Linked DNA regions of Homo sapiens: all the other regions are linked to region 1. The links come from fine-mapping of genetic effects on gene expression. A gene starts in region 1. Each other region holds a variant in brackets. All regions are shown on one strand. Distances are from middle to middle.

What was found.
Region 2: its variant is fine-mapped to the expression of CTSH in testis (GTEx, PIP above 0.99).
Region 3: its variant is fine-mapped to the expression of CTSH in skeletal muscle (FUSION, PIP 0.95).
Region 4: its variant is fine-mapped to the expression of CTSH in monocytes (Fairfax 2014, PIP 0.95).
Region 5: its variant is fine-mapped to the expression of CTSH in uterus (GTEx, PIP 0.99).
Region 6: its variant is fine-mapped to the expression of CTSH in whole blood (TOPMed, PIP above 0.99).

Annotation. Positions count from the first base shown.
Region 1 is chr15:78,942,831-78,948,036 of GRCh38, reverse strand. CTSH (cathepsin H) reads left to right here and starts at 2,991. Exons shown (of 12, transcript NM_004390.5): 1 at 2,991-3,146. The coding sequence starts at 3,056. RefSeq lists silencers at 2,789-3,138, 3,576-3,870 and enhancers at 2,721-3,259, 3,260-3,798, 4,259-4,308, 4,739-4,788.
Region 2 is chr15:78,918,369-78,923,682 of GRCh38, reverse strand. It overlaps CTSH (cathepsin H), which reads left to right. Exons shown (of 12, transcript NM_004390.5): 11 at 565-690; 12 at 1,478-2,625. The coding sequence ends at 1,553. Among named protein-coding and RNA genes, the nearest start is that of CTSH, 24 kb to the left of the region's middle. The variant G/A (reference allele first, on the strand shown) is at 2,395.
Region 3 is chr15:78,902,163-78,907,476 of GRCh38, reverse strand. No RefSeq gene overlaps it. Among named protein-coding and RNA genes, the nearest start is that of MORF4L1, 32 kb to the right of the region's middle. The variant TTTTTTA/A (reference allele first, on the strand shown) is at 2,118.
Region 4 is chr15:78,827,144-78,832,457 of GRCh38, reverse strand. It overlaps the pseudogene LOC390614. Among named protein-coding and RNA genes, the nearest start is that of ADAMTS7, 18 kb to the right of the region's middle. RefSeq lists an enhancer at 512-1,059 and a silencer at 1,247-1,466. The variant G/TTTG (reference allele first, on the strand shown) is at 2,792.
Region 5 is chr15:79,810,730-79,816,043 of GRCh38, reverse strand. No RefSeq gene overlaps it. Among named protein-coding and RNA genes, the nearest start is that of TRC-GCA5-1, 69 kb to the right of the region's middle. The variant C/T (reference allele first, on the strand shown) is at 2,344.
Region 6 is chr15:78,986,866-78,992,179 of GRCh38, reverse strand. It overlaps RASGRF1 (Ras protein specific guanine nucleotide releasing factor 1), which reads left to right. Exons shown (of 27, transcript NM_001145648.3): 21 at 386-489; 22 at 1,907-1,991. Among named protein-coding and RNA genes, the nearest start is that of CTSH, 44 kb to the right of the region's middle. The variant C/T (reference allele first, on the strand shown) is at 3,298.

The DNA.
Region 1 (5,206 bases):
GAGCATCAGAAAAGCCCATGCATGGGGGGAGTCTCTATTCTGGTGCCATGCTCAGGGCCAGGTATTTTACCTATAATTATATTTAAACTGCATGACCGTATCTAACTACCCTGGAAAGCAGGGATACTTGCTCCATTTTACAGATGAGGAAACTGAGGCTGGTGGGGGGGAGGCGGGGGGGAACCATTTGCTTAGGTCACACAGTGAATCTGTAGTAGGGCTAGAACCAAACATTGGTCTCCAATTAACCAGGTCAGTGCCCTCCACATCTCAGCACCCAGGGGCCCTGGCCTGCTGGAACGATCCACAAAGGAGGGTCACCAGGGACCTAGCGCAGGAGGCAGCTCTGGGGCCTGAGGTCTAGCATGCAGAGCTTTCAATTCTGACATCCTCCAAGTGGCTGGGATGGGCAGAGGGGTGAAGCATTCCAGGTACACATGAAGGGCAGGACATCTGCCTAGAAGGACACCTTTATCCCAAGGCCAGCGACTTCTGTTCCAAATAGTAACCGAGCAGGGTCTTTTCTGAGACATATGCCTCAAAGCACAGAGAGACTGGTCACACCCAGAGAGGGGCATCCAGACAGAGATGGAGTCACAACCTAAGGAAGATCTGCTTTATCTGAAAAAAGGTGCCTGCTGGAGCTCACCCTGGTTCCATGGAGATTCCATGTCCACATGCCACACTGGCCACAGGAGAGGAGAGAGACTGTGGGGGAGGCTCTTTAAATGCAGATTTCTGAGCCCTACCCAGACCCAGTAGGTCATATCCCAGGAAAGAAGTCCAGGAATCTGCTTCCCCAGGTGCCTGAGACACAGAGTCTGGGCTAGAACATCAGGGGATGAAACACCAGTCGGAGGGAGGCCACGAGAGAGCTCAGATCTGGCTCTACTCACAGGTTGGAAAGATGCATTTTTAAAAAGAGAGGGAAGGGCACAGAGGCTCACATCTCTAATCCTAGCACTCTGGGAGGCTGAGGCAGGAGGATCACTTGAGCCCAGGAGTTTGAGACCCCATCTCTACTAAAAATACAAAAAAACTAGCTGGGCGTGATGGTACGAGCCTGTGGTCCCAGCTACTCAAAAGGCTGATGTGGGAGGATCTCCTGAGCCTGGGAGGCCAAGGCTGCAGTGAACTGTGATGATGCCACTGAACTCCAACCTGGGTGGCAAGAGAGCCAGGCCCTGTCTCAAAATAAATAAATAAAAATTTAAAAATGAAGAGACAGAGAAAGAGCAAGCCCAGAGCAGAGAGCACTGCAGTAGGTCAAGGCTGGGTTCAGACACTCTCTGCGCACAGACTGGGAAAGTTACCATCTACTCTTGTGGCCTCAGTTTCCTCATCTGTAAAATGGGGGGTCAACAACATGCCACTTTGCAAGGTGATGATGTAAGTGAAGAACAGGGCATCACTGGGCATTTGAGGCTACGGCACAGGCTGGTCTGAATCACCCTCTCCTCACCCAAAGCAGTGACAGCACCGGCCTCCTCAGCCTGGAACGCACGTTCTTCTGTCTGTCTCACACCCAGACCCTTACATACCATCTTCTTTAGCTTTGCAAACTACAGAGAATGGCCCTACAGCTCTTAATGTAGCTTCCTCAGCAGAAAGACTAAAATGTCTGTTGAGGGGGCAAAACAATTCACAAGGAGGTCGTCTAGCTTCTTCAGTTGTAAGTCCACTCCAAGCAAAAGGGAAGCCAGGGAAATGTGGTTAACCAGGGCAGGGAGACGTGGGGAGTGTGGGGGAAAGTCTGAGGTGGAGACACACAGGGACATGGGGGGTATGAGGTGGGGACAGGCAGGGAGATGGGGGTGCAAGGTGGAGACACGCAGGGACATGAGGGGGTGTGAGGTGGGGACAGGCAGGAAGATGGGAGGTGCAAGGCGGGGACAGGCAGGGACATAGGGGTGTGAGGTGGGGAAATGCAGGAAGATGGGGGGATGTGAGGTGGGGACTGGCAGGGATATGGGGGTGTGAGGTGGGGACAGGCAGAGACATGGGGGTGTGAGGTGGGGACAGGCAGGGACATAGGGGTATGGTGGGGATAGGCAGGGAGATGGGGGGTGCGAGGTGGGGACAGGAAGGGACATAAGGCTGTGAGGTGGAGACAGGCAGGGACATGGGGGGTGTGAGGTGGGGACAGGCAGGGAGATGGGGGGTGCGAGGTGGGGACAAGCAGGGACATGGGGAGTGCGAGGTGGGGACAGGCAGGGACGTGGGGCGTGCGAGGTGGGGACAGGCAGGGACATAAGGGTGTGAGGTGGAGACAGGCAGGGACATGGGGAGTCTGAGGTGGGGACAGGCAGGGAGATGGGGGGTGTGAGTTGGGGACAGGCAGGGAGATGGGGGGGTGCGAGGTGGGGATAAGCAGGGACATGGGGGTGCGAGGTGGGGACAGGCAGGGACATGGGGGTGGGAGGTGGGGACAGGCAGGGACATAGGGGGTGGGAGGTGGGCACATTCAGGGAGATGGGGGTGTGAGGTGGAGACAGGCAGGGACATAGGGGGAGCGAGGTGGGGACAGGCAGGGAGATGGAGGGTGCAAGGTGAAGACAGGCAGGGACATGGTGTGAGGTGGGGACAGGAAGGGACATGAGGGGTGCGAGTTGGGGATAGGCAGGGAGATGGGGGGGTGCGAGGTGGGGACACGCAGGGAGATGGGGGACGTGGGGATGGCGACAGGCTGGGAGAGGGAGAGGCCAGGCTGAGACCTCCCCGCGCGGTGCCAGCCAGTCCAGGCAGATCCAGGACTCAGCCAGGCCTGATACCCAGATAAGCCCTTCCTCCCAGAGGAGATAAGGGAGCGACGCGGCCGGCCGACAGGTGAACTAGAGCTGGCGAGTTAGTCGGCGCCGCCCCCTCCCGCGAGCCCGGCCTCGGGGGAGTACCGCCCACCCCGCCCCGCGCTCGCTCCGCCCCGCGCTCGCTCCGCCCCTTCGCGCTCCCGCCGCTCCTCCACGCTCGTGCCGCTCCCCCCCCGCGCTCCCAGTTGACGCTCTGGGCCGCCACCTCCGCGGACCCTGAGCGCAAGAGCCAAGCCGCCAGCGCTGCGATGTGGGCCACGCTGCCGCTGCTCTGCGCCGGGGCCTGGCTCCTGGGAGTCCCCGTCTGCGGTGCCGCCGAACTGTGCGTGAACTCCTTAGGTACGCAGAGGGCGCGCCGCCCGAGAGGGTGCTAGCAGGCCCTAGAGTGGACGCTGGGAGAACTTGGCCAGGGGCGCACTGGGCTCCGGAGGAACGGGGCAGAGCTTTCCCCGGTGAGAGGCCAGGAACTCTGCGTGCTGGCACGGGGAGGGGTAAACTGCATTATAGGCGGGGGTTCTCGGAGGGTGGGCGGCTTGTAGGACCAGAGGAGCAGATGGGCTGAGTGTCCAGGGTCCCACCTAGCCAGGTGGCTCTCCAGCCTAGAATACCAAAGGAGCCCGCAGCTCCTTCCGCCTTCCTCAACTGGGGACACAGAGTGTCACACAGAGGACTCTGATCTGTCCCTGCCAGAGGTGAGCAAGGACGTCCCAGCCTTCTCTAGCAGCTTCCCCCGGGACTTGGCACACAGGGGATCCCCGTAGTGTCTTGGGAGTCCCATCTGTAGAGTAGGTTGGACGGGCTGTTTGGAACAGTGAATCCCTGTGCAACGGCACCAGGGAAAGCACTCAGACCAACAGCGCTTTTAACAGCACCCCAGGGCCCATGGCGTCAGGTGGAGCCCCAGGACTCCTCTTGTTGGCCAGATTGGCTGCGACTGGTCCAGCTTCGTGCTGCCCTTGCATCCTGTCTACTGCCCGGGCTCAGGCACCTCCCCTGGCTGAAGGCAAGGAGCCTGCTCTTCCCTACTGCCTCCCTCCTTTCCTACTGTCCCTGGTCCCAGCCTCAGCCCACAGGCTCTGAACTTAAAGACCACCTGCCCCCTTCACCGAGAAAAGTAGCCAAGAAACAACCCAAGGAGCCAAGAACCTAGGGAGGGGGGGTGCCCTGAGCTCTGGAGGAACGGGACAGGGCTTTCCCCCAGCTAGAGGCTCAGGGGATGGGACAGAGATCACTGAGGCTGAATCTGGGCCAGAGGGTTGCCTCATTCCTTCCCACCTATTTATTTAAAAAGCTCCCCAGCCTTGCAAACCTCAGTGGGCGCCCAGCTCCAGGTCAGTTCCCGCCTAAGGAAAACCTAGCTGCCGCAAGCGAGGGCTGCCTGGAGAAGGCTGGCGCTGAGAGGCTGTCTGAATTCCAGAGCAGGGCTTGGCAAACTTTTTCTGTGAAAGACCAGACGGTAAATAACTTAGGCTTTATGGTGGTCTCTGTAGCAACTACTAACTCTGCCATGGTAGTGTGATAGCAACCATAGATTGTATGTAAGTGAGTCAGTGTAACTGGGTTCTAATAAATGATTTTTATGGCCACTGAAATTTCAGTTTCAAGGGATTTTTGGGTGCTACGAAATATGTTTCTTCTAACCATTTAAAATTGTAAGAAACCGTTTGTAGCCCAGGAGCTGTACTAAAACAGGAGTCAGGGACCGGCTGCGGTGGCTCACACCTGTAATCTCAGCAATTTGGGAGACCGAGGCAGTCGGATCACTTTAGGTCAGGAGTTCGAGAGCAGCCTGGCCAACATGGTGAAACCCTGTCTCTACTAAAAATACAAAAATTAGCTGGGTGTGGTAGCCAGGTGCCTGTAATCCCAGGTACTCAGGAGGCTGGGGCAGGAGAATCGCTTGAAACTGAGAGGTGGCGATCACTCCAGCCTGGGTGACAGAGTAAGACTCCATCTAAAACAAACAAACAAACAAACAGGGGAATACTGTACTTTCCTGAAACCTGCTGTAAATCCAGGCAAGGTATTATGGCACTTTTAAAGTCCTGACTAGATTGGAATGGATCTATTTTAGGGTAAGGCACGGTTCACCAGCAGATTATTCTGGCCCCAGAATAATCTCTCCAGAGGCAAACTGGTAGTCAATTGTCCTAAACTCAAACCCTGCCTCCAACTCTTGTCCTGAGTTGAGGTCTGTCTTCCTCTAAAGCCCTCAGCTGCAGCAGGGCCCTTAATCAAGATCTGGAATCCCCTGAAACCCTAAAGGGAGCCATGTTGAGGAAATGTGCATTTTCCCCAGGGAAAACGGCCATAGATTGGTCTCTGGAACAGGTTCGAGACCCAAAAACGGAGATCTAAATGCTGTGTGGTAGTGATCTTCACACTGGAGGTATGGATCC
Region 2 (5,314 bases), 24 kb after region 1:
GAAAGAGGGAGTAGAAAGTGTCAGGGGTGAGACACGGGCCAGCACCATATGGAGATTCTCCTGACAGAAGCAGAAGAACCAAAAGAACTGAAAGGGCCGGGTGCGGTGGCTCACACCTGCAATCCCAGCACTTTGGGAGGCCGAGGTGGGTGGATCACCTGAGGTCAGGAGCTCGAGACCAACCTAGCCAACATGATGAAACCCTGTCTCTACCCAAAATACAAAAATTAGCTGGGTGTGGTGGTGCACGCCTGTAATCAGGCTACTCGGGAGTCTGAGGCAGGAGAATCGTTTGAACCCTGGAGGTGAAGGTTGCAGTGAGCAGAGATTGCACCATTGCACTCCAGCCTGGGCAACAGAGTGAGACTCCGTCTCAAAAGAAAAAAAGAACTGAAAGGAGTTCTCTCACGGAGACTAAATGTGATTACATCACCACCTTACATGCCTCCCTGGTCCGCTGTGGGGAACATTGCTCTAAAGCGCTCAAAGAGGCGTTGTTGGATGGGACTGTCATTGCTTTTATCCTTCCCATATGATCACCTCTTTTTGAATTTTGTTTTCCAGTACTTCCTGCCATAAAACTCCAGATAAAGTAAACCATGCAGTACTGGCTGTTGGGTATGGAGAAAAAAATGGGATCCCTTACTGGATCGTGAAAAACTCTTGGGGTCCCCAGTGGGGAATGAACGGGTAAGCAGCTCCCAGGTCCCACTTCTGGGAGGGGGATGTTGCTCAGGCCTGGAGGCCCTGGGGGCATCACTTCCACCTCAGAGTTACGGCTTCCACAGACGAGCTGGTCAGCCAAGCCCTAGGCCAGGCCAGGGGGAAAGGGAGCATGAGAATGTAGCCTCCACATTTCCAAGCCCCCATTTGCAGCCCTCACAGGGCCCCAGGTCTTTAGGACGCTGCAGGGAGAGCAGGAGGCCAGCTGGCTCAGAAGGACTGCTAGGAAAACAGCTCAGAACTTGGAACTCTGCTGGCACGAAATCAGTGTCTGGGAGGGTCCGTCTTTGAGAAATCAAAGCAACAAATGTACCCCTGATCACTGACAGCCCCTCCTTCCGGGAGAAAAGGCTGGCATGGGGCGGCCTGGGTGTATATGCTGCTGTGCCTTTGTCCTGTCCTCCCAGATTCCATGTCCTTGTCTGAAAAGGAGAGCTTTCCTGTTCCCTCGGGCTCCTGGTGATAAAATAGCTGTGTGAGGGCCCGGCCAGGGCTAAGAGGGGGCCCTCGGTAAATTTTCGGGAGAAGTGGGATATGGATCATTCATTTGGCAGCTAAGGAGAGGGAAGAATGAATTCTTCACAAAGTCAGGTCCGTGATTTGCCGGTGATCAAATAAGCCGAATGCTACTGTTTTATGAATAAATTTAGAGGGTCTCACCCCTGAAGTCAGCTCTTGGTGAGCAGCAAAACATTCTAGAAAGGCCTGTGGTGGGGAGACCGCCGGCCGGGCCTCAGCTCCTCTTTCTGCCCAGGTACTTCCTCATCGAGCGCGGAAAGAACATGTGTGGCCTGGCTGCCTGCGCCTCCTACCCCATCCCTCTGGTGTGAGCCGTGGCAGCCGCAGCGCAGACTGGCGGAGAAGGAGAGGAACGGGCAGCCTGGGCCTGGGTGGAAATCCTGCCCTGGAGGAAGTTGTGGGGAGATCCACTGGGACCCCCAACATTCTGCCCTCACCTCTGTGCCCAGCCTGGAAACCTACAGACAAGGAGGAGTTCCACCATGAGCTCACCCGTGTCTATGACGCAAAGATCACCAGCCATGTGCCTTAGTGTCCTTCTTAACAGACTCAAACCACATGGACCACGAATATTCTTTCTGTCCAGAAGGGCTACTTTCCACATATAGAGCTCCAGGGACTGTCTTTTCTGTATTCGCTGTTCAATAAACATTGAGTGAGCACCTCCCCAGATGGAGCATGCTGGTCCTGGGCCATGACTCAAACCAGGTCTGTCCTCGCCACTCAGTCTCCCAGGAGGGAGGCATCAGGGGGTGTCCAGGCTCTGGCTGGGAGGATGGTGGGGGTGCTGGCGGTATTATCCACCAGATGGGGTATCCAGGATGAAGAGCAGGCTTAATTTGAGATCTTGACTATTTGTCCCAAACCTGAGTGGAGAGGTGGGGAGGAAGGAGAAAAACGGGCCAAGCTGCGGCAGAGGCAGGATTCAAACCCACAATGTCAGCCCAGAAGCCTGTACTTCTCTGTGTGGCCTCCCCAGTCTCAGCTGCCTACTCCTACTCAGACTCTGCCCCCCACCTCCACATGAGACTGCCCACCCCTTCCTCACCAACCCCTTATTTATTTCAAACGTGCCCAGATGCTCCTGTCGTTTCCACACCATCCCTTCCCTTATCTTGCCTTTTGAGAAATCTTGATCTCTGTTTAGAGGGC[G/A]GCCATGAAGTTGCTGCTGCTTCCTGAAGCCTCCGGGCTCTGGGATGTCTGTAGAACAAGCTGGAGTCCACCAGCTCTTTGTCCTATGGCTCACAGACTTTCTTAATGATAAAAGCTGTCATCTTATTTGGGCTTCCTGAAAAGCTAAAGGCTTGAGAATATTTGAAAAATATATATGTTCATGATAAGGCTTATTTAGATAATGCAAATATAGTTTAATTTATTAGAAAATTCTAGTAACATAAGACCACAACTGTATAAGACAAAAAACAATCACCTTGCTAGGCATGGTGGCTCACGCCTATAATCCCAGCACTTTGGGAGGCCGAGGCAGGTGGATCACCTGAGGTCAGGAGTTTGAGACTAGCCTGGCCAACATGGTGAAACCCCGTCTCTAATAAAAATACAAAAAAAAAAATTTAGCCAGGAGTGGTAGTGCACACCTGTAGTCCCAGCTACTCGGGAGGGTGAGGCAAGAGAATCGCTTAAGCCTGGGAGATGGAGGTTGCAGTGAGCTGAGATCATGCCACTGCACTCCAGCCTCAAAAAAAAAATAATAATAATAATAGACTTCATTGGATGGAATTCTATTCTAGATTTAAAAAAAAACTAACATGAAATGAAAGCATAATTTCTTTTTCTTTCTTTTTTTTTTTTTTTTTTTAGATGTAGTCTCACTCTGTCACCCAGGCTGGAGTGCAGTGGTGTGATCTCAGCTCACTGCAACCTCCACCTCCCCAGTTCAAGCGATTCTCCTGCCTCAGCCTCCTGAATAGCTGGGATTACAGGCATGCACCACCACTCCTGGCTAATTTATGTATTTTTAGTAGAGATGGGGTCTCACCATGTTGGTCAAGCTGGTCTCGAACTCCTGACCTCAAGTGATCCCAAAGTGCTGGGATTACAGGAGTGTGAGCAACCGCACCCAGCCTGAAAGCATAATTTCTGAATTTGACAAAGATTCTCAAATCAATGGTCAGTTGTATAAAAGGATTCCCATTGAAGTCAGTGGTATAAAAGGATTCCCATTGAAGATACATGGCAAATAAGTCTAAGGGTACCATTCTTGCTTACATCTATCTGGAAGATCTGGCTGCTGTGATAAATAAACCCAATTAATATTTGCAGACAGCATGATAATGTGGCTAAAAACATTCAGGAGAATCAACAAAACTTAGAACTAATGAAAGAGTTCTGAAAGTGGCTGGATACCAGAAAAAAAAATCAAAAACTCAGAAAAAATACACTATTTTTTGTTACTATTGCAACTTTACTATTGCAACAAAACCAGCAGCTAGGAATAACCACCAAAAAGTCTTATATGAAGAAAATTACTAAATTAATAACACTATAAAGGAAGACTTAGATAAATGGAGAGCCACCATATTCTTTTGTTGTTGTTGTTGAGACAGAGTCTCACACTGTTGCCCGGGCTGGAGTGCAATGGCATGATCTTGGCTCACTGCAACCTCCGCCTCCCGGGTTCACGTGATTCTCCTGCCTCAGCCACCCGAGTAGCTGGGATTACAGGTGCCCACCACCACACCTGGCTAGTGTTTTGTATTTTTAGTAGAGACGAGGTTTCACTATGTTGGCAGATTGGTCTCAAACTCCTGACCTCATGATCCACCTGCCTCGACCTCCCAAGGTGCTGGGATGACATGCATGAGCCACCATGCCCGGCCGAGGCACACCATATTCTTGAATGGAAAGATTAGCATAAATAAGTTGATTATTGCCAGAAATAAAAGTACAGATGGTATATTTCCAACTAAAATCCCAATAAAATTCTGTTATCCTTTTTATCTGGGGGAAAAAAGGCCAAGGTAGTTTTATAAATGAGCAATGAGGGTGGATTTTTTTCACATATTAAAATTTACAAAATGTTAACCCTTAAAACAGTGTGCCAATTAAGAATAGATTACTCACTCAGGTCTAGGAAGTAAGAATTCGATACATCCGTCACAGACGAGTCCATTTTCACCATTCAATTAAAGGTGCTAGAAGCTGGGTGCGGTGGCTCACGCCTGTAATCCCAGCACTTTGGGAGGCTAAGGCAGATGGATCACGAGGTCAGGAGTTCAAGACCAGCCTGGCCAACATAGTGAAATCCTGTCTCTACTAGAAATACAAAAATTAGCCGGGCATGGTGGCGGATGCCTATAATCCCAGCTACTCGAGAGGCTGAGGCAGGAGAATCACTTGAACCCGGCAGGCAGAGGTTGCAGTGAGTGGAGATCGCACCCCTGCACTCCAACCTGGGTGACAGAGCGAGACTCCGTCTCAAAAAAAAAATAGTGCTAGAAATTGAACAGTAGGTTGGAAAAACAATGTAACCTAAATCCTCACCCAGCTCTATATTGTTTTTAAAGTGAACATTTTCTTTTCTAACGGGTTTAGATATAGAATGACTGTGGAGACAGAGGAGAATTCTTGCACACCCACACCCAGATCTCTCTGCGATGAATGTAGTAGTTTGATACAAATGTCACAATTAATGATCCAATATAGAACATTATTAACCACATTCCAATTAAATACTCATTTAAAGGGAGGGTCCTGGGTGAGGTTCCAAAGAAATTCAAATTACCACAAAAATCAAATAACTGTTTTCAAAATTAGCCTCCCCTGAGGGATTTAGGTGCTCCGCAGGGATTGTGGGCTTGGGCTGGAACACAGACCTGAGACTTTGAAGCAGAGTTCTCCTTTCCATAAGAGCCCCGAATGTCTCAAACCCAGACAATGATGAGAGTCTTTTATTATAAAAAGGCCTGCAGGCCTGGTGTGGTGGCTCACGGCTTATAATCCCAGCACTTTGGGAGGCCAAGGTGGGCAGATCACCTGAGGTCAGGAGTTCGAGACCAGCATGGTGAAACCCTGTCTCTACTAAAAACACAAAAAAATTACCTTGGCGTGGTGG
Region 3 (5,314 bases), 41 kb after region 1:
AAGCTGTTATAGTCCTTGTCTTCATCTTGTCTTCATAACTGGTCGTTAAGACCCTATGTAGTTGATATTTCTTCCTCTTCCTGCCTGTTCCATGTTTCCTTTGCTCTCAGCCAGCACCTCAGCTGTTTTTGGTTTTGGTCTTGTTTTGTCACCAGATAGGGTGACTTCAAAACTCATTCCTAAAAGAATGTGAAACCTCAGTGGTCTTGTGTTTTTTAACTTATGTACTTTTCTATTAAACTTTACCTAGGAACACAGAAGTACTAAGACATATCCCAGAGAATCCTCTGGGTTCCAGACATGGTCCTTTCTCTCCTCATTGTATATAGCAGCACCCAAATTTCTTCTTGGTAATCAGAGCCGATCATCTCAGCCAGTACAGTACTTCTCTTCTTTGCCTGTTGGCTCGGTGGTATGAGATGACCAAAATAGCTATCTAACTTCCAATCCAACTGACCCATCATGTTGCCTGGATGACAGAATTTCTCCTTGGGAACCAAAACCTCTATACCAACTGAACGCAAAGTTACAGGAATGGGAAGCACACATTCTGTAATTGGTTTGTGATAGTGAGAAGCCACTCCTATTAATTTCCAAACCTGTGCATTCCATGAGAGATCACCATCTATGGGCCATATTCACAGCATATACTGCATCCTTTAATTAAGAACCTCAACTTTTCAGGTCTCCCAACTGGCACCACAACTGACTCCTCAATAGCTCATTCCATTTTCTCAGGCTGATAGTGTATGCCAGAAGCAATGTTACACGGAATACCATGAATAAAGGTTTCTGGGTTCACGGATGATTGTGTTAGCAAAAGCATTAGACAGGGAAAGTATTAATATTATATTAATAAATCCAGATATCCAGAATGCATGTCTATTCCAGTGAGGAAAAACTGGCATCCCTTTGATGATGGAAGGGGTCCAACGTAATTAACCTGTCACCAAGTGGCTGGCTTGTAACCTCAGGAAATACACCATATCAGGGAATGGCAGATTTGGCAATCGCAATGGCAAGTAGCCAAGTGTTCAGGTCACCCACTACTACATAGCAAACCACTCCAAAACTTAGTAGCTTGGAACATTATTTATCTGACTCACAAGTCTGCCATTAGGGTAGGAGCTGGAGGGGACAGCTCATCTCTGTCCCATTCTGCATCAGCTGGGAGGGCTCAAAGACTGGGAGCTATAATCATCAGAAGGCTCACTCACGTCTGGCAATGAGACCCTAGCTGGGGACGTGGTTAAAACACCTACAATTCTTCTTACACGAGATGACACATGGAAGCCTTGTCTACCATGAATGCCCTTTGGTGAACTTTCATACAAGACACTAATATCTTCACTCTGGATCTAAAGAGGCCCATCTACATAACTCCTCCTCAGAAATCCTTGCATCAGTCTTCCATATTGTGTAAGGCAGGTCAATATTTGAAAAATTTGCGTGACTCAGTAAATATTTTCCAAATGACCAATGCAAAATCTTACAAAACCATGTATGAGCAAAATATCCATGCAAATACTAAATGATTCTAATCTAACAATTCTAATGTAACAATTTTTTTAAATTGTGATATGCTTTCACAGTCCACCTTGCAATGAACATTTAAGAAACAAACTGTAATCCCAGCACTCTGGGAAGCCGAGGCGGGCGGATCACGAGGTCAGGAGATCGAGACCATCCTGGTTAACTAAAAATACAAAAAAATTAGCTGGGCATGATGGCACGTGCCTGTAGTCTCCGCTACTTGGGAGGCTGAGGCAGGAGCATTGCTTAAACCCGGCAAGTGGAGGTTGCAGTGAGCCAAGACTGCACCACTGCATTCCAGCTTGGGTGACAGCGAGACTCCATCTCAAAAAACAAAATAACTTTTTCTCCAGTTTGGGTTTGCTGGTAAATTTTCTAACACATTTTTCGAGTTTTGTCTGAAAATGTTTTCTTGAAGGGTTTTTACTGAGTTTAGAATTTTAAATTGCAGTTTTGTTTCAGCTTTCTAAACATACTCCATTGCCTCCTGGCTTCCATTATTTGCATTGTCAAGTCTTTTTAATTGGGATGCCTTTAAAATTGCCTTTAGGTTTTAATTATATACGCTTTTTTTTTTTTTTTTT[TTTTTTA/A]AAGACGTCTTGGCTCTGTTATGCAGGCTGAAGTGCAGCCTTGAACTCCTGGGCTCAAGCAATCCTCCCACCTCTGCCTCCCAAAGTGCTAGGATTACACTAATTAAGCTGCAGTGCCTAGTCTTAATATCTTTAACTGGTTATTTTTGTCATGCTTAAAGTTAACACTTTATTAACAGTTCTGCAAAGTCATCAATCTCGATTATTGCCCCATTCGCTCCTGCAATAATTATATTTTCAGTTAGGTTTACCAATGCATTGTCTATCCTTAATGTCTCTGTCCCTCAATATGCGTATTTGTTTCCTGACCTATCTTCCCACTGTTAAACCTATTGAGTTCCTATTTTAGCTACTGTGTTTTGCATGTGGAATTCTGATATGCTTTTTAAAGTTTGCTGTTTAAGTTATCTCATCTCTCTAAATATAGTAAGCATACTTTTTTAAATGTCTTAAAATGTCAGTATCTGACTTTCCTTACTTAAGGAATGATGTAGAGCACTTTGTTGTTTTTGAGACAGGGTCTTACTCTGTTGCCCAGGTTGGAGTGCAGTGGTGCAATTTCAGCTCACTGCAACCTCCACCTCCTGAGCTCAAGTGATTCTCCCACCTCAGCCTCCAGAGTAGCTGGGGCCACAGGTGTGAGCCACCGTGCCCAGTTCATTTTTGTGTTTTTTTGTAAATGAGGTTTTGCCATGTTGCCCAGGCTGATCGTCAACTCCTAGGCTCAAGTGATCTTCCTGCCTCAGCCTCCCAAAGTGCTAAGATCATAGGCGTGAAACATTATACCCCACCAGCACTTACTTCTTAAAGTAAACTGGATCTACAACAGCCTATATCCTGTCTCTGTTTCTCAGATGAGTTTCTTGATGTTTTCTCCAAGTACTTCTATTTCTTTTTTGAGACAAGGTCTCTCTGTTGCTCGGGCTGGAGTGCAGTGAGGCAATCAGCTCACTGCAGCCTTCCTGGGCTCAAGCAATCCCCCCACATCAGCCTCCCAAGTAGTTGGGACTACAGGCACACACCACCACACCTGACTTCATGTAGTTTTGTCTCACGCAAAACTAGCTATTTGCTGCATATATTTGTAAAACTGTTTGAAGAAGTAATTAAATTTGGTTCATCTTTATTCCTGGGGTATATCCTTTTGGGGTCCTAATTTCTTGGCAGATATCAGACTCCAAATCATGTCCTTTAGTCCAAGTGAGACTATCAAAAGAACCAGACCAAAAGCCTCTCTGACCTTTGCAAACAACTGCAAAATAAAAGCCACACTGAATATGGACTTACAGCCCTGAAACTCAATTCTCTACCAAATGCTGGCCCATTAAGTCTTCGCCATTTTCTTAGGTCTCCAATGCCTTCAAGCAGATGTTTTATATCTCTGCTTATTTTCTTGTCTTCAGTGGAAGATTGCTCTGAATTATTTACAAAGTATGCCATTACTTTATGCTGGTCTTGGTTAAGTCTATTTTGTTCCCTTTTCTCACATTTTCAATTCTTTTTATATATTTTAAAGATACTTTGTATGCAGTATCTCTGTATTACCTAGATTGAAGGCAGGCAAAATTTTGGGGTTTTCAGTTTTAGTCTCTTCCTTTTTTTTTGCTCATTTATGCATTTAAGAGGAAACTGTATTTGGCTGGGTGTAGTGGCTCACACCTGTAATCCCAGCACTTTGGGAAGCCGAGGCAGGCAGATTACAAGGTCAGAAGCTGGAGACCAGCCTAGCCATTATGGTAAAACCCCATCTCTACGAAAAATACAAAAATTAGCCAGGAATAGTGGTGGGCACCTGTAGTCCCAGCTACTCAGAAGGCTGAGGCAGAAGAAGCCCTTCAACCCAGGAGGTGGAGGTTGCAGCGAGCCGAGATCGTGCCACTGCACAGCCTGGGCGACAGAGAGAGACTCCGTCTCAAAAAAAAAAACAAAAAAACAAAAAAAAACCAACCCACATATGTATATACCCTAGGAAATACGATATTTTTTTCATATACTGTATTATTGTTCTCCAACTTGTTTCTTCCATTCAACAGCATGTGAAAGCAAGCTTAGAAGCAAAAAGCAAAGGAGAACTGACTGAAACACAGCATGGTGATGTGAAGACTGGGGAAGCTTGTGGGCAAAGGATTACTCAGGTGCCGAGGCAAGAGACTGAAGGCACAAACGGTTTCAGTATAATGAAGAAAATAGCTAGAATAAGAATAGTTATAATACAAATTCGATACAGAGATTATCATGGACATTATCAGTCATTAGTATAAACATTATTAATCATTGGCTTTTAACATTACTCTTTATTGTACTACTAATATAATCAAGGAATAACCAGCAGGTATAGGGTCAGGTGCTGAAGGGACATTGTGAGAAGTAACCAAGGCGGCAAGAGGTAAGCCTTCTGTCACGCCTGCATAATGGCCAGTTGAGGGCTCCTTGGTCAAGCGGTAACGCCAGTGCCTGGGAAGGCACCCATTACTTAGCAGACCACGAAAGGGAGTCTCCCTTTCCTTGGAGGAGTCAGGGAACACTCTGCTCCACCAGCTTCCTGTGGGAGGCTGGATATTATCCAGGCCTGCCCACAGTCATCCAGAGGCCTAAACCCCTCCCTGTGGTGCTGTGCTTCAATGGTCACGCTCCTTGTCCACTTTCATGTTCCTCCCGTACCCCTAGTTCCTCTTGGAAGTTCTTAGAAGATAGCGGTAGAAGAAATAGTGAAAGTCTTAAAGTCTTTGATCTTTCTGATAAGTGCATAGAAGAAAATGCTGACGTATGCTGCCTTCCCTCTCTGCTTCGGCTACCTAAAAGGGAAGAGCCCCTGTCTTGTGATCACATGACTTGCTTGACCTTATCAATCACTTGGAGGGCTCACCTTCCTTACCCTGCCCCCTTGTCTTGCATGCAATAAATATCAGCACACCCAGTGGCCCCCCCCAGGCCCAGCTGTTTTCTCTTTATCTCTTTGTCTTGTGTCTTTATTTCTTACAATCTCTCGTCTCTGCACACGGGGAGAACACCCCCTAAGCCCCATGGGGCTGGACGCTACAGAAGCTGTGTTTAGCTTCAGAGTTTGTACCTTAACCTAACTTGCCCTTTACTCCCATGATTCAAAACACTATCATACAGGAAACCATTTGTTTTAAAGGAGAAAGGAGCATGATTATTTTAATCCAGAAAACTATTAAAATACATTCTCC
Region 4 (5,314 bases), 120 kb after region 1:
GACAGTTAAGTCCCTTAAAGTGCAATGAATGGAGCTCATACTGTTTGCGAAGGCTGTGCTAGGAGGATCAAAGTGCTAGACCTGGCAGAGTCCCCAGGATTCATCTCATCCCCAAACTTTTCAAATGGGGAAACTGAAGCCAGAGGAGATGGGACTCACCTTAGGATACACAGATTAATGGTGTACTCTCAATCTTAAGTAATCTCCACCAATGGACCAACCCTGACCTTCTGAGAGACCCCAGAATACCGGCCTTGACGTCGGACCCTGCTTCATGACGTCATCGCCCCAACCAGATATGAGCCACTTTACCCCATGCCCTTGATACTGACGCAGCGACAAGCGGCCCTCATTGGAAGAGTGCAGCCGCTGGGGCGCTGCCGTGGGAGCTTGCTCGGAGGGGCACCGGCCGCTGGGCTCAGCTACACAGCTCTCGAAGGCCCTGTCGGAAGTGGCGCCGCAGCAGGCAGTAAAGCAGCGGATTGAGGCTGTTGTTGCAGTGCGTCAGGCAGATGGAGACCGGGAAGAGGTAGGCCTGAGCCAGGAAGTAAGCGCGGTCCAAGGGCATGGCGTTCAGTTTGATCAGCACCCCTCAGAGTGTGAACGCTTGGCTGGGCAGCCAGCAGAGCACGAAGGCCAGTAGCACGCAGGCCAGCGCACAGGTGACTCGGGAACGCAGTCGGCGCCTGACCCTCGACGGCCAGCGTGCGCACCACAGTCGCAGGAAGCGCAGCAGCAGCGAACAGGTGCCCAGCGTGGCCAGCGGCAGCACGAAGGCTACTGCGATCTTCTGCAGGTGGTAGAGCACCTGCCATTTGGGGCCGCCGGCGGGGAAGCGCAGCAGGCACGAGTGCTTTCCCCCCACCCTAGCTGCCGTGGCGAACAGGGCGGTGGGCGCCGTAGCCAGGACGGCCATAGCCCAGAGCAGGCAGCACACACAGCTGGCCCGTGATGCGCCCCGATGGCTCGGAGGCAGCGCGCCAGTCACAATGCAATAGCGTGCCACGCTCATGGCACTGAGGAGGAAGATGCTGGCATACATGTTGAGCACGGTGAGCGTCAGCATCACCTTGCAGATGGCACCCCCGAAGGGCCAGCTAAAGTCGCGCGCCGTGTCCACGGCCCAAAAGGGCAGCGTTAGCACAAACTGCAGGTCAGTGGCTGCCAGATTGAGGAGGAAGCAATTGAGCAGCCAGTGGCGGCGCCACTGCTGGGACCTCACCCGGACTAGCACCAGCCGTTGCCCACCAGGCCTACAGCGCACAGGGCCCAGTAGGCGCCCGCAATCAGAGCCCGCAGCGCCGGCGCCCGGACGGCCCCCGCCACCCCGTCCAGGCCATGCAGGCTGCGGGGACTCCGGGCCGGGCTAGTGTTCTCTGATCCGTTGCCCAGGGAGCTGTTAGGGAGCAGCCCCCGACGCCTCTTCCGGCCAGCTGAAGGGAAGCACGGCCCAGACAGCTCGGGCGATTCGACCCTGCCTCTGGCGGATGCCATCGCCGTTGATGGCGATGCAGGGATCCGCTCAGATCCACTCCAACACCGGCAGCCGCTGGGAGAGAACTAGGGGGTCTGCAGTGCCTCGCGGCAGCACCTTTAAAAAACTGGGGAACCACCTGCTAGCCTGCGATTGGCCAGCTGCACCCGTGGCCCACCCCAAAGGCCTCCGAGCTGTTATTTCCAGTAGCTGCTTCTTCACCCTTGAATTAGCGTTGAACTGGGGACCCTTTGCGGGTGAACTGAGACGCGGGGGCCGGAAGCCCGAACCGGAGGAAACAGCGTCTGCAATTCACCCAAGGTGTGGGTCCGCAGCTGCCGGTTCCCGCCCGAGGACGCAGCTCCAGCTTCCCAGTGCCTCCCAGAGGGACTCTGATACTCGGGGGGCGCTGAAGGGAGGTCATATAAATTCTTCCCGTGGAGGCAGTGCGCCCCTCCACCTCCCCTGTGGGCCCCGAGATAGCCAACTGAAGACCAAGGAGGGGTGCCCAAGTCCGACCAGTGGGGCCTGGCAGCCCCCTGCCCGCCAGCCCTGCTTCCTTGAACCCCTGCTCCTGATAAGGCATTTCTCCTCCCCTGCTTTAGCCATGGGTACCCTTCATTCCCACCTTCACTGTGGTCTGCTCTGCAAGTATCCCTGATCTTCTTCCCAAGGTCAGCCGCACTGCTTACAACTGGGCTGAAGACGGAGAAGCAACTAATCTAGGAGCAGTCAGAGGAAGAGACATGCAAACAGGGTTTAAAAGACCAGTGCTGGGCCAGGCCCAAAGGCTGATGCCTGTAATCCTAGCACTTTGGGGGGCCAAGGCTGCAGATCACCTGAGGTCAGGAATTTGAGACCAGCCTGGCCAACATGGTAAAACCCCGTCTCTACCTAAAATACAAAAATTAGCTGGGCATGGTGGTGTGCGCCTGTAATCCCAGCTACTTGGGAGGCTGAGGCAGGAGAATCGCTTGAATCTGGGAGGCGGAGGTTGCAGTGAGCCGAGATGGCAGGCCTTTCCACTCCAGCCTGGGTGACAGAGCAAGACTCCATCTCAAGAAAAAAAAAAAGTCCAGTGTTGGGAGACTAAGACTGGGCCAGCACTCATGCTCAGCATGCACAGAGGAGGGGCCTAAAGCCTGGGGAATCCTGAAAGACTTCTTGGAGGAGGTGATTTTTGAGCTGATCCCAATCCTGCCTTGGCTTCCAATTCCAGTGACTTCCTCCTACAGTTAGAATAAAATCCAGATTTCCTGCTTTGGACTACAAGGCCTCATGACAGAGGCACCCACTACAGCTTTTTTTTTTTTTTTT[G/TTTG]ACACAGAGTCTTGCTCTGTTGCCCAGGCTGGAGTGCAGTGGCATGATCTCGGCTCACTGCAACCTCCGCCTCCTGGGTTCAAGTGATCCTTCTGCCTCAGCCTCCCGAGTAGCTGGGACTACAGGCGTGCGTCACCACACCCAGCTAATTTTTGTTTTTAGGAGAGATGGGGTTTCATTTTGTTGGCCAGACTGGTCTTGAATTCCTGACCTCAGCTGATCCACCCACTTCGGCCTCCCAAAGTGCTGGGTTTACAGGTGTGAGGCACCGTGCCCAGCCAGCCCTGGTATTTTTAAAAGTGCCTAGGCAATCCCACTGTATGCCAGGGTTGACAAGTCCTCTGTCTGTGGTCTCTCTGCCCACCTCCTAGACCTTGTCACCTACCACTCCGAGCCTTGCTCACTTCACTCCAGACACACAGGCCCTTCCCCAAATACACCACTCTGGCCTGCCTCAGGCCTTTGTCTTTGCTGTTCCCTCTGCCAAGAATGCCCTTCACCCAGATTACCATGTGGCTGCTCCTTCTCAGCACTCTGGCCTCAGCCCAAATATCACTTCCTAAGAAAAGACTTCCCTCTGCCACCACTCTGTTTACTTCCAAAAGCATTCATTGCATGCCCATTATGTGCCAACCACCTTGCTAAGCACGCAGGATGCAGCCTGCAGTGTGTCTTCTACTGGGGGATAAAGACAAACAAATAAATGAGATGAACTCATGGGGGAAAGAGTGACAATGAAACAAAGCAGGGTAACAAGACAGAGACTGAAGGGCAGGGCAGGAGACTCAAGGAAGGGGTATGAGTTTAGGGATGGGAGGGTTCCCAGGGGAGGAGGAGACCATGGTCCCCTTTATACCACTTACCAGGTATGTGTCTTGGGGATAACCAGTTTTTATTTTTCATATTTTATTTTATTTTTGAGATGGAGTCTTGCTCTGTCACCCAGGATGGAGTGCAGTGGCGGGATCTCAGCTCATTGCAATCTCTGCCTCCCAGGTTCAAGCAATTCTCATGCCTCAGCCTCCCAAGTAGCTGGGATTACACGTGCCTGCTACCACGCCTGGCTAATTTTTGTATTTTTTAGTAGAGTCAGGGTTTTGCCATGTTGTCCAGGCTAGTCTTGAACTCCTGACCTCAGGTGATCCACCCATCTCGGCCTCCCAAAGTGCTGGGATTACAGGTGTGAGCCATCACCTCCGGCCGGGGGTTAACTAATTAATCTTGCCTATCTGTAAAAGAAGATGCTGATAACCCCTCATCAGGGTCATAGGAGAATTAACCAGCCTCCAGAGAGAAAGCCTTCAGCTCTGTGCCTGGTGCGGAACTCTTCTTCTTGTGATTATTATTGAGAGGCTAGAGTGACCTCCCGTTTTGCTGAAGGCCCTCTCTGGACCTTCTCTGCCAACTTTAGTCTGGAGCTCCCACTGTATGTCAACCCTGGCATACTGTGCACTTACCTTTTCCTTCTTTCCTACCTCCATCAAGAACACAGGCACAGGCCGGGCTCACGCCTGTAATCCTAGCACTTTGGGAGGCCGAGGCGGGTGGATCATGAGGTCAGGAGATCGAGACCATCCTGGCTAACATGGTGAAACCCCGTCTCTACTAAAAAATACAAAAAATTAGCCGGGCATGGTGGCGGGCGCCTGTAGTCCCAGCTACTTGGGAGGCTGAGGCAGGAGAATGGCGTGAACCTGGGAGGCAGAGCTTGCAGTGAGCAAAGATCACGCCATTGCACTCCAGCCTGGGTGACAGAGTGAGACTCTGTCTCAAAAAAAAAAAAAAAAAGAACACAGGCACAACATGCCACCAGGAGCTGGGAGGTAGTCCCTAGAGGGCAGATCTCCCTCATGTCTCCTGCCCTCAATCAATCACCACCACCAGAGGCTCCCCATCACTCCCAGGCCTCTGCCTTGCTTGCCCAGGAGACAGGGAATCTGCAGTTAAGTGACATTCTCTCCCCAGCGGTTAGGAAAGGGGAGATTAACCTACTTACCAAGACATAGACTAGGCCAGAGCCTGGATGAACTGGGAATCTGATCGAAAGTTTGCAAAATTAGATCATGCTTTCCCAGGGTTTCCTTCCAGCAGGGCCTGATGCCTGGGACTTTTTCTTCCTTGAATGGAAGTTGTCACTGAATGTCAAGTGGCCTGGGTTCTAGTCTCTGTGCCCTAACACTCTGTGTAAAATGAAGTAACTGTCCCATTCTGGTCTGTTTTCTCATTTGTAAAATGAGACACCTTCTAATTCTAAGAGTGTTTTTAGAGACAAGGTCTTACTGTGTCACCCAGGCTGGAGTGCAATGGCCTGATCATAGCTCACTGCAGCTTCTTTGCATTGGCTGGGCATTTACTATGTGCCAGGCCCAGTGCCAGGCATTTTATAAGGATCATCTCATCTGGTCCCCATGACTGCTCTGTGAGACAAGGAATGTGATCCTGACTTACACAGGAGGAAGCAGGCTCAGAGAGGGGACTTGCCCAAAGGCCCACCCAGCAGGTGAACAGAAGCCTCCCTCTGAA
Region 5 (5,314 bases), 870 kb before region 1:
GGCCTTAGGATGCTCAGCCAGAGTCCCCACCTTGCCATGCCTGGATTCCTTCCTTAATTTGACCCTTTGGAATCAGGGCACACCTTTGCCAGCAGGATACCATCCTTCGTTGCTGTGTGACAGTTTTGAATTTAGGGCAGATTCACCTAGAGCTGGCTATTCCACCATTGTGCCACCCACAGACACTTCCATCTCGCCCCCCTTGTCCTCCATGAGACTCAGCAGCTGGCACTGTGTCCCTGACCCAGATCATGTGTCTGGACACTGCCTGCCTCTTGTGGGTGCTGGTTCCATGGTGGCCCAGGAACCGTTGCTGCCAGCAGGGGCCCTCAGCCAGGGCCTGGCACGCTGTGCCCAAGCAGATGGTGCTGGAATGTGATGAGACTCCCTTTCAGGGCAGGGAGTGGAGAGAGGAGGGTTGGACACAGGACCTGGGTATTATTTGGAATCACTTTGTCACTGGAGATGTACCAGGTGCATCCTTAGAGCTCAAAGCAGTGACCGTGCTGCAGCCAGATGGCCTCTGAAGCTCCCAGCACAGATTTGCGTCTCCTGGCTGGGGAAGGAGGCAGGCTGAGGGGTGGAGAGGCCTAGAGGGTGGATGAAGGAGAGCCAGTGTGAGCATCTGGCCTTGTTCTCTCTCCCATCACTGTTACTCTTCTTTTAGTCCCTTCCTTCTCGCACTGTTACTTCAAACCCCTTTCTGTAAAATCATGCAACCAATGTTACTGAGTGCCGATTATGTTCCAGATCAGCTGTGCTTGGTTCTGGGGCTCCATGGCTCTGCCTTGTTGGAATTTCAGTCTAACAGGAGTGATGCTCTAGAGAGGGGCAGGTCATCACCAGACAAGTGTGAACTTTCCCTGTGACACACACTCTGAAGGAGCAGGACATGGTGTGGTGAAGGTCCATTATAGGGGGAGTGGACTAAGTCGGGGAGATGGAAGCAGGCTTCCTGGGGAGATGATGCCGATGCAGCCATCTGAAGGACGAGCGGGAGTTAACTGGGAGAAGAGAGGAGGAAGGGTGTGCAGGCTGGGAACAGAGGGTGCAGGGTCTATCGTTTGAGGGAGAAGCAAAGTTGAGGGAGTCAGGGAAGGCCAAGGTGGTGAAAGCGGAGAGATCCAGGGGGCCATGGTGAGAAGGGACTCTGCTGGCTTCTAGGATAAAATACAGGGTGTGCAGGGCCATGGGAGGCTCTTTCCTATTGTGGGCTGAGGGGATGCAGGTTTCCCAGTAGGAACAGGAGGAAAGGACATGGTGGTGATGGTGCCAACCGTCACCGTCATTAGACCATTAGCTGACACTTCCTGGTGCCTGCTGTGTGCCGGGCCCTGCTCTGAAGGCTTCAAGAATTCTCAGAAAGAAGGGAAAAGGGTAAGGGGCAGGGAAGACTTCCAAAGCCTTTCCGGGCTTTATTTGGAGTCAGCAAAAGGGAATACTAGCAACTTCACATACACACACACACAGACACACATACAAACACTCAGACACACACACACACACACACACACACACACACACACGGATACACAATTTCTCCATGCTAATTAACATGAGCACTTTATAAGTCAGTTTGGGTTGTCAAATGCCCGACATAAAGCAGATATGATTTAAGAGATTGGAAAGCCAAGATGATTTGAATGCCTTTTACCTACAATTTTTAAATACATTGGAAACCTAAAAACGATATTCTTTACGAGCAAATTAAATGTTATTTGTTTGTTTTTTAAAGAGGTAAGTCACATGGTGGGTTTAGAACAGGTGTCTTCAGAGATCAGAGTCATCGCTTCCTTTATTAGAAAGCAGAGGAGTCAGGAGACATGCCATTTAATGCTGTGCAGCACCAGAGTACTTTTCTTTCTCTGGAGTGGACTGCGTGCATCTTCCTAATGTTTGTGGCAGTCGTCTGATAATAGACTGCATTAGAAAATGTTACACTTTTATTTCAGAGCCAATGTTTTGAAGGGCTTTACAGGAAAGAAGTGGGTTCTTATCTCTGCCACATGACCTTGAGGAAAGGTGAAAATCTCTTTCCTGCTAAGAGTTGATGCATGATTTAGAATTCTAGGAGCAAAAAGTCATTCTGCCCATAGGAGTCTAGCTCACATCCCACTGTGGAAACTAATCTAACATGCAGTTTCCTCATCTGTAAGTGGGGACGACAATATTCTCTTTTAATAAGGTGGAGATTAAATAGAAGGATTCAGGTGAGAACATAGAGCATGTGGCAAGCTCAGTGAACGTGAGCTGTTGTCATTTACATGCACGTTGACATGGGAGCACATTCACAAACCCCTCCAGATGCATAGTCACAATGAAACACATGTGCATACATGCGCG[C/T]GTGCACACACACACACACACACACACACACTCAGAGGTTTGCTGAAATTCTCCAACAGAAAAGTAATTGTTGTTGTTTTTTTGCTTGTTGGATTGGGTTTGACTGGGGCCAGGGTGAGTTTGACTTAGAAGGTAAATGACCCCACCACTCAGCCTCCCCAACCAATGCCCAGCTATGCCCTTGGTGGCTTCCTGCTGACTCTCAGGTATCTTGGATCTCCAAGCCTGAGTGACCATATTACCCCCACAGGGATCAGAGCAGCCAGTCCAGGTGCTTAAGCCATCACTGGGACCTGCGCTGGCAGCCAAGAAGCTGAACATGGTGGCCAAGTGAGTAGAGGAGCTGTGCCCCTTCAGGCTACCTCCTGCCCGGGCCCCACCGCCTAGGGGAGCAGAGAGGACAACTGCCTGGTCAGCTTCACCTTTACTCACTCTGGCACCTCTGCCTGGAATACCCTCTCCACACCAACACTCAGGTCCAGCATCACCCACTCTCTTGGCCTGGCTCAGATGCCATTTCCCCCCGCAGGGCTCTTTGGATCCCCCTCCTCACCTCCTCTGAGCCTTTTTCTTTGGACCTCTCTTACAGAATTCAGCATGTCTACCATGTACTATGCCCATCAGATCTCCCAGAGTGTGGTCACCCCCAACACTCCACATGAAGCTGGGCTCAGAGAGCATTTGATGATCAGAGCTGCTCCAGGGATCCTGTTTCCACAAAGGCACTGTCCTGAATTTGAGTTTGATCAGGTCACTCCCTTGCTTTAAATGCTTCATTGGCCCCCTCAGCACTTAGGATAAAGTCCACTCTTTCTCATGCCTCTAGACTGTCTGGTTTGGTGCCTCCCTACTTCTCCAGCCTCATTTCCCCTCCCTCCCTCTCACCAGGCTCCAGCTCCCTTCACCAGTGCAGGGAGAGTGCCAAGCTCATTCTTGCCTCCAGGCCCTTGCACATGCTAAGTCATCTGCTCGGAGTTTCCTTCCCCTTCACCTCACCACCCCTACTCATCCTTCAGGTCTGAGCTCAAATGTCACTGAGAGATGTCTTCCCTGACATCCCTTCACCTTCGTCCACAGTTCAACTTACACTCACATGTACTTATCATTCATTATTATTTGGAATTGCTTATTTGCTTTCGTGATGGTTTAAGGCAGGCATCCCCACTGGAACTCCAGGAGGGCAGGGCAGATTCTGTCTTGGTCAGCACTGTATCTGCAGCACTTAGTACAAGGTTTACATAGAGCAGGAAAAAAATTATTTTTGTGAAGAGAGGCACAAATGCCATGAGGCCTGAAAGATCTCCCTTTTGGGCTCATCTTCCTCCTGAAATTGCCCTTTTTGCACGTCTTGTTTTGGAATCCAAGTCTGCCCTGAGTTTAGTTCCTTGGTTGTGAAACGTGGCTCTGCAGTGTCAATGATCCAACTTGAAGCAGCTGCTGCCAAGCCCGTGCTCCTGGCCCTCAGGTCTTGGATTCAGCAGGAACTGGCCACATTCCAAATACTGGCGTCTGCAGCTCTGGGCGCTTGTGTACAGCATATTGCAAGTGCTGAGAAACTAACCACCCACCAGATCCTGGCCAGGGCAGATGACGGTAACTCCATCATTTCCCTCAGGCAGGGGTAACATTGAGGAGTGTATTCCACACCACTGTCCACAGTGTTCTTCTGGGGTATGCTCCTGTCACCCATAACGGTGGCTGGTTTGACACGGCACTCTTTACTGGCTGACTTCTCTTCTTTGTCTTCTTCCGACTCCCCACCCCAAACAAACTACTTGGCCTTGAATCCTTATCACGGAGTCTACTTGTGGAAGAATGCAAACTAAGACAAGCACTGTTACTGCATCATACTCTACTGTTCCATTATTATGACTACACAATAAACACACTGGCAACATGCTTCTGCACATATTTGCTCATCAAATCCTCCCATGAACCCTATGGATTAAATATTCTTGTCTTTGTTTTGCAGAGAGGGAAATAGGGATACATCAGAGAGGTAAATCAATTTGCCTAGTGCTGACCGGTGAATCAGCTGGCGGCCTGGCCTGCTGCCCAGGGCACTTTCCTTTCCAACACCAGGACCCATAAGGCTGTGCATATGTGGCACCAAGTGGATAAGAGTGTGGAGACAGAGCTGGCAGGGAGGCCCAGGCTGTGAAGGGTGTCCTCATGCCCTGAGATAATCTACACTTAGAGAAGAGCATTCGGATGATCGGTCATGGACGGCCACACACATGTCCCTGGAGACTCATGCCTTCACACAAATGCCAGTGTGTGCACACTTGGACCCACATGTGCAGAAACCTGTTAGTGGCAATTTCAATTTCCTAATTAAAAACAAACAAGGTAGTCATGTTCTATCCAGCGTCCCACACTCGAGCTTATGGAATCCAAGGGCTTCCTCCGGTCATCTGGCCCAGCCACCTGCATCTGACCTGAACCAACATGGAATGGGGTCTTGTCAGCTAAGAAGCAGTGCTTAACCAGCCATTGAGTGAGCTGTTAGGGACCCTGGAATAATTACAGCCTTCTCAAATGAGAAGATGAAGAGGGGTTTTTTAGTGTGTGTGTGTGTGTGTGTGTGTGTGTGTGTGTTTTGATAGTTTGAGATTTAAAATTACATAGTAGAACTAATAGGCCCTTTCTGTCTCATAATTATGTTTGTCTTGATACAAACCCTTAAACGTTTGGCTGCTGGTCTTGGATGAAACTCCCAGCCTCAGATGGAATTGTAACGCCATGATGAGCCATTATGCTGTGGCCAAGGGTAGTCCCTCTGCGACACTTGCTGCCTGGCAGTGCTGTTGTTCTCAGCATGTACAACAAGGGCTCATATCAGAAGGAGGTTATATTTTCCATGGAGCTGTCACAGGGGCCCAAGGACTAGGAGGCAGGAGCTACTGGCTCAGGAATCCTTGGGAGTTAGATGGGACCTGGGACTCTGTCATTTCCCCCTTTGCTGGAAACA
Region 6 (5,314 bases), 44 kb before region 1:
GCACAGCCTGAAGTCAGACGACCTGGGCTCCAGTCCTAGTCAGCCCACTTCCAGCTTAGCAACTTGGGCCAGTGGCTCACCTCTGGAAGCCTCCATTGTCTCATGCACGTGCTGGGAGCTCCCTGGCAGGGTGGGTGAGGGCAGTCCGAGCACTGGGCTGCACACACCGGCACAACAGGGCGGGGCCCATCTCCCTCCGTCCCCTTCCCTCCACCTCCCCTCATCATACTCCATCCACCCTCTCATCAGATTCGAGGCAGCGTCATACCCCGTCCACCCGCCCACCCAATTCGAGGGCGAGATACCCCCACAGAGGCAGCTGGGAATCCAGGAGGTGTCCGTCATGGGCCTAACTCAAAATGTTGCTCCCCCAACTCAAAACCAGGCTGAAGGCGTGAAGGCTGAGCCCTTTGAAAACCACTCAGCCCTGGAGATCGCGGAGCAGCTGACCCTGCTAGATCACCTCGTCTTCAAGAAGATTCCTTATGAGTAAGTGTTGCAGGCACCACCCGCCTCCCCCCGCTTCCTCAGGCACTGTCTTGGACAGCACCCTGGAAGCACACGCAGTGAATTTCCAGAGCTGCACGGACCCTCCACAGCTTGAAACAATAGTGCCTGGGTCAGCAGAATGAGGGAGAGAAGCCTGTTCCCGTTCCTGCCCACCAAATTCTCTCCTTACCTGTCAGCTGCACACACACACTTTTCTGGAATCATCTCTAACTCAGAGCTCCTAGAAAGAGAGTATCTAGAAAAGAGCATGTGTTCATGTGTGTGTGCACATGTACCTGTGAGAAACTGTGCACACAGGCAAGAGCGTGGGCACGTGTGTAGGTCCAGTGACCTCCAGTAGCTGATTTAGGGGACAGGCGTGGACTTTGAAGAAGCCCCAAGGCCTGCTGTTACCTGTTCTGGCCTCAGTCATCCCTGGTGTTCACTGCAATTATTCTACTTATGTAATTTTCTATCCCTCTTCCTTCATCTGATGCTATGCCAAAAGGGCATTTGTAAACACTATTTTTAATAAGTACACAGCATTCTCTAACAGTGTGTTACTAAGCCACGAGAGTGTTTTCAGCCTTCACTTTTATATTTATCCCTGCGGTAAACATCCTTGCAACAAATATGTCTGAATTCCTAACAATGGTCCCAGAATGGTTTCCCAGAATTGGGCTCACCGGATTTGAATCATTGTGGGGCTTTTGGCCTCAGCCCCACCTGGCACTCTCGCAGCCCTCCCCAGCATGGGTGCTGCCTCGTGTAAATAGAGAGGGTCGGCACTTTGGAAACCTGTCACATCTCCTGGACATAGAAACAGATGATATTCCTGATATGTCCCTCTAGGAGGAGAAGCGGGATGTGTTTTCAAACACAAATCACCTCCCCGGCCCCTTCTGCCCACAGGACTCTGCCGAGGTCCCCTCTCCCTGTCACTTTATGATGTCAGGAGCCTGTGGCTTGGCTTGCAGGCTTTTTAAGCCTTTTATCTGCCCCCTTTTAGGGCCTTCTATTCCCTCATCCTACAGACCAGCTGCTGCAGTGACTAAAATGTGAATTCTCCCTGTCAGAAAACAAGATTCATAACAAATTATTTCCACCATGTGTGCCTTCCCACACCTTATTTCAGCCTCCCAGTAAACCTGTGAGGAAAGGATTGTCTTGATTCCCATTTTACAGATAAGGAAACTGAAGCCCTGAGCTATAAAGGGTTTGTCTGGGGCCACACAGCTGCGACAAGGCAGAGCTGGACTTGAGCCCAAGGTTCCTTCCTTCCAGGGCTCTGCAGAAGGTTGTTCCCCCAGAAATGACAGCCTCAAAAAGCCAAAAAATAAAATAAAAAGCATGGAGCAATGAAATCAGCAAGGCAAACCTCACCCCCTCCACCTGGGTCTCCCCTTACTTCCTACAGGGAGTTCTTCGGACAAGGATGGATGAAACTGGAAAAGAATGAAAGGACCCCTTATATCATGAAAACCACTAAGCACTTCAATGACGTGAGTATGGATGGGAGCGCCTCTCTCACTGGGGTTTTTCTTTGGCAAGACGCTCAAGAGGCTGGGTAGAGAACGGGCTATACACCTGGCTGGAACCAGACTCCTGGGTCCTCTCCAGCCCTGCCACCCCTTGCCATGTGGCCTCGGGCTGGTTGCCTCACCTCAGTCTCAGTCTCTTCTCCTATTAAGTGGGGCTGACCATGGAACAGTCATAGGAGGATTAACTGCGTGGTCATCTAAAGACATTCAGCCCAGCATTGGCTCGCTGTGAGCCCTCACCCAGAACTTGTGATTCCTAAGTGGGGGTTACTCCTCGGAGCAGGGTTTTTGCGGAGTCTGTGGCAAAGAGAACAGAAGGGAATGAAGGATTAGAAGGAAAGGAATGAAGACCTTGCTATGCTTCCTATTTTTAAACCTCATCTCAGTATTAGCAACAAGCAATATTTGGCTGGACAATGGCAGACAGCTTCCCTCTAATTCATACATTATCCAGAACCCTCGGAATCTCCTAAGGTTTTGGCTGTTTCAGCTACTCTGGCAATGATGTCCCACTCGCTGCCCCTCTTCTTGCCTTTCTTGTGGTAAGATGGTCTTTTGGGATAACACTAAAGAGAATGTTTAATTCTCTTTAATGTTAGGAGGCCACAGTGCTGAGCGAATGTTTAATTAAACATTCTCTTTAATGTTAGAAGGCCACAGTGCTGAGCGAATGTTTAATTAAACATTCTCTTTAATGTTAGGAGGCCACAGTGCTGGGCGAGACTAAGGCTCCTGAATCTCCCTGGCTAGGATCAGGATGGCCCAATATCCAGCTCCTCCAGCCCCCTTCTCTAGACCTCCCAGCCCCAGCTTTCCTGGGGAAGAACTGTTGAGATGGGACCAAGCACTGGACCTGCAAACTGGCCTGGCATAAGCAGCTCAAAGGGCCTGGACTGACTCTGATTGGCACACTAAGTTCAGATGGGTGCATCACACACCCCCAGCTCCCAGAATCCCTCCTCAGAGAAACATGGGAGCAGCAGAGAACTGGGGGGCAGACAGGTCCCAGAGCCTTCTGAGGCACAATTCACATCCACAGGGAGCATTTGCAATGTTCTTTAATAAGAATATCCACTGCCCCCTAACCGGGTGCCTACCTTGTGCCTAGCACTGAGCTTTTTGTGCATAGTAATCTCATTGAAAGCTCACATCAACTAAAAGATGGGGGCTGTCCTCACATTTTTAGGTACAAAGAAACCAAGACTCTGGAAGGGCAAATGCTGAGGTCTCCTAACTGGTGTGTGGTAGCTCATGGCTTCCATTGCTA[C/T]ACAGTGCAAATCAGCTGTGTGAGGAAAAAAAAAAAAAAAAAACTCCCTCCCAGCAACTTCCCCACATGTGTGCAAGTTCCAACCCCTGAACCACAGAGCCGGGTCCACTCCCAGCCTCGTGACAGCCCTGAGAACAGTTGCACTCAGCATCCTCATTCTTCTGAGTTTAATCATCAACACGAGGAAAGAGCCTTTGAGGGCCGGTGGTGGGAGCACATGATTCCACTTGCCCTGACCACCTTGGCCAGGGCCACATCCTACCAACCCCAGCCGCCAGCACACCATATCCTGGGAGGATCCTCAGCAGCCTAGAAGAAACAAGAAAGACCCAGAGATTGCAGCTCAGGGGAGGAGCCCTTTGGGGCCTCCTAGGCCTGGGCACCCAGTGGTTCCTGCAGTGAGCACAGCAGCAGAAAGGAGACTCGTGTGCCTCTCAGGAGAGAAAGAGGGACAGAGACCAAGCCTCGGGAAACATAACCTGACAGAGGCCTGATCCAACCACACCTTACAGCACCAGGCAACAAATCACTGTCCCCTCCCTTCCCTGTCCCACTGTGTGCCCAGGAGTCGAGCAAGTGAAAGACAAGAATATGAAGTGAGCATTCACTGAGTGTTCACCCCATGCTAGACGCTGTGCTTCAAAAGCATCATCTCATTTAATCCTGCCATGCCCACTTTGTGGATGAAGAAACTGAGGCTTGAGGAGGGGAAATTTCATCCCCAACATTACACAGCAGAGTACAATTTTGAACGCACACGGTCTACTTCAGAAGCTGCCCTTGTAACGACCTGGCATTTGGCCATCTCTGTTCAAATCCACCATTTGGTTCTGATACACAGGATGTGTGCTGGCACAACAATGATTTTCCTCGTCTCTCCCTGGCACAGTTCTATTTGCTGTTTTCTGGTCCTTTTGCCTTTAATTTCTTTGTCCTCTTAACTGGTACTGGCCAGGATCTTCAGGACCATGGCCAAGCTGGGGTACTGGTGTAAGGCAAGCAAGGTTCCCAGAGAGCAAAATCGAAGGAGCTACTCGCCCTTCTGCACTTGTACCCCACACCTCAACTGCCTCACCCTAGTCCCGTCTCTCTCCACAACAGCATGGAATGGACATGGTGATCATGTGTCTCCTTCTTGGGTTTTTTGTGGGGTTTTTTGGTTTTTTTTGTTTTGTTTTGTTTTGTTTAAGACACAGTCTCCCTCTGTCGCCCAGGCTGGAGTGCAGTAGTACAATCTCAGCTCACTGCAACCTCCACCTCCTGGGTTCAAGTGATTATCATGCCTCAGCCTCCTGAGTAGCTGGGATTACAGGTGCATGCCACTGCACCCAGGTAATTTTTGTATTTTTAGTAGAGACAGGGTTTCACCATGTTGCCCAGGCTGGTCTCAAACTCCGGACCTCAGGTGATCCACCCGCCTCAGCTCCCAAAGTACTGGAATTACAGGTGTGAGCCACTGCACTCGGCCACCTTCTTGGTTTTAAAGGAGATATTTCTAATATTTCCCCATGTGGAATGATGTTTGCTCCTTTACCAGGTTTTTTTTTTTAATTATCTTTTATTCCTTGGGTGCTAATGGATTTAACCATGAATAAATACAGAATTTTATCAAATATTTCTTTCTGCATCCATAGAGATGGTCATATGGTTTTTCTCCCTTGCTCTGTTGATATAGTAAATGACAATTATACTTTTTTTCTAATATTCAATCATCCTTGCATTCCAGGGACAAACCCAATGTGGTCATGGTATATTAAACAAATGGGTGTGTAATTTTCCTTTCTTATATTATCCATCTCTGGTCTCAGTATCAAGGTAATACTGGCTTCATAGAATAAACTGGAAGATATTCCTTTTATCCTTCTTCTCTGGAAGATTTGACTGATCTATTTCTTTCAAAAATTAGTATAACTTTTATATAAAATTCTTTTTAAGTTCCATGTTCTCTTGATGGAAAAAAATTTTAACTACTACTTCAATTTAATTAAGAGGTATAATACATGTACTACTTTGTGTT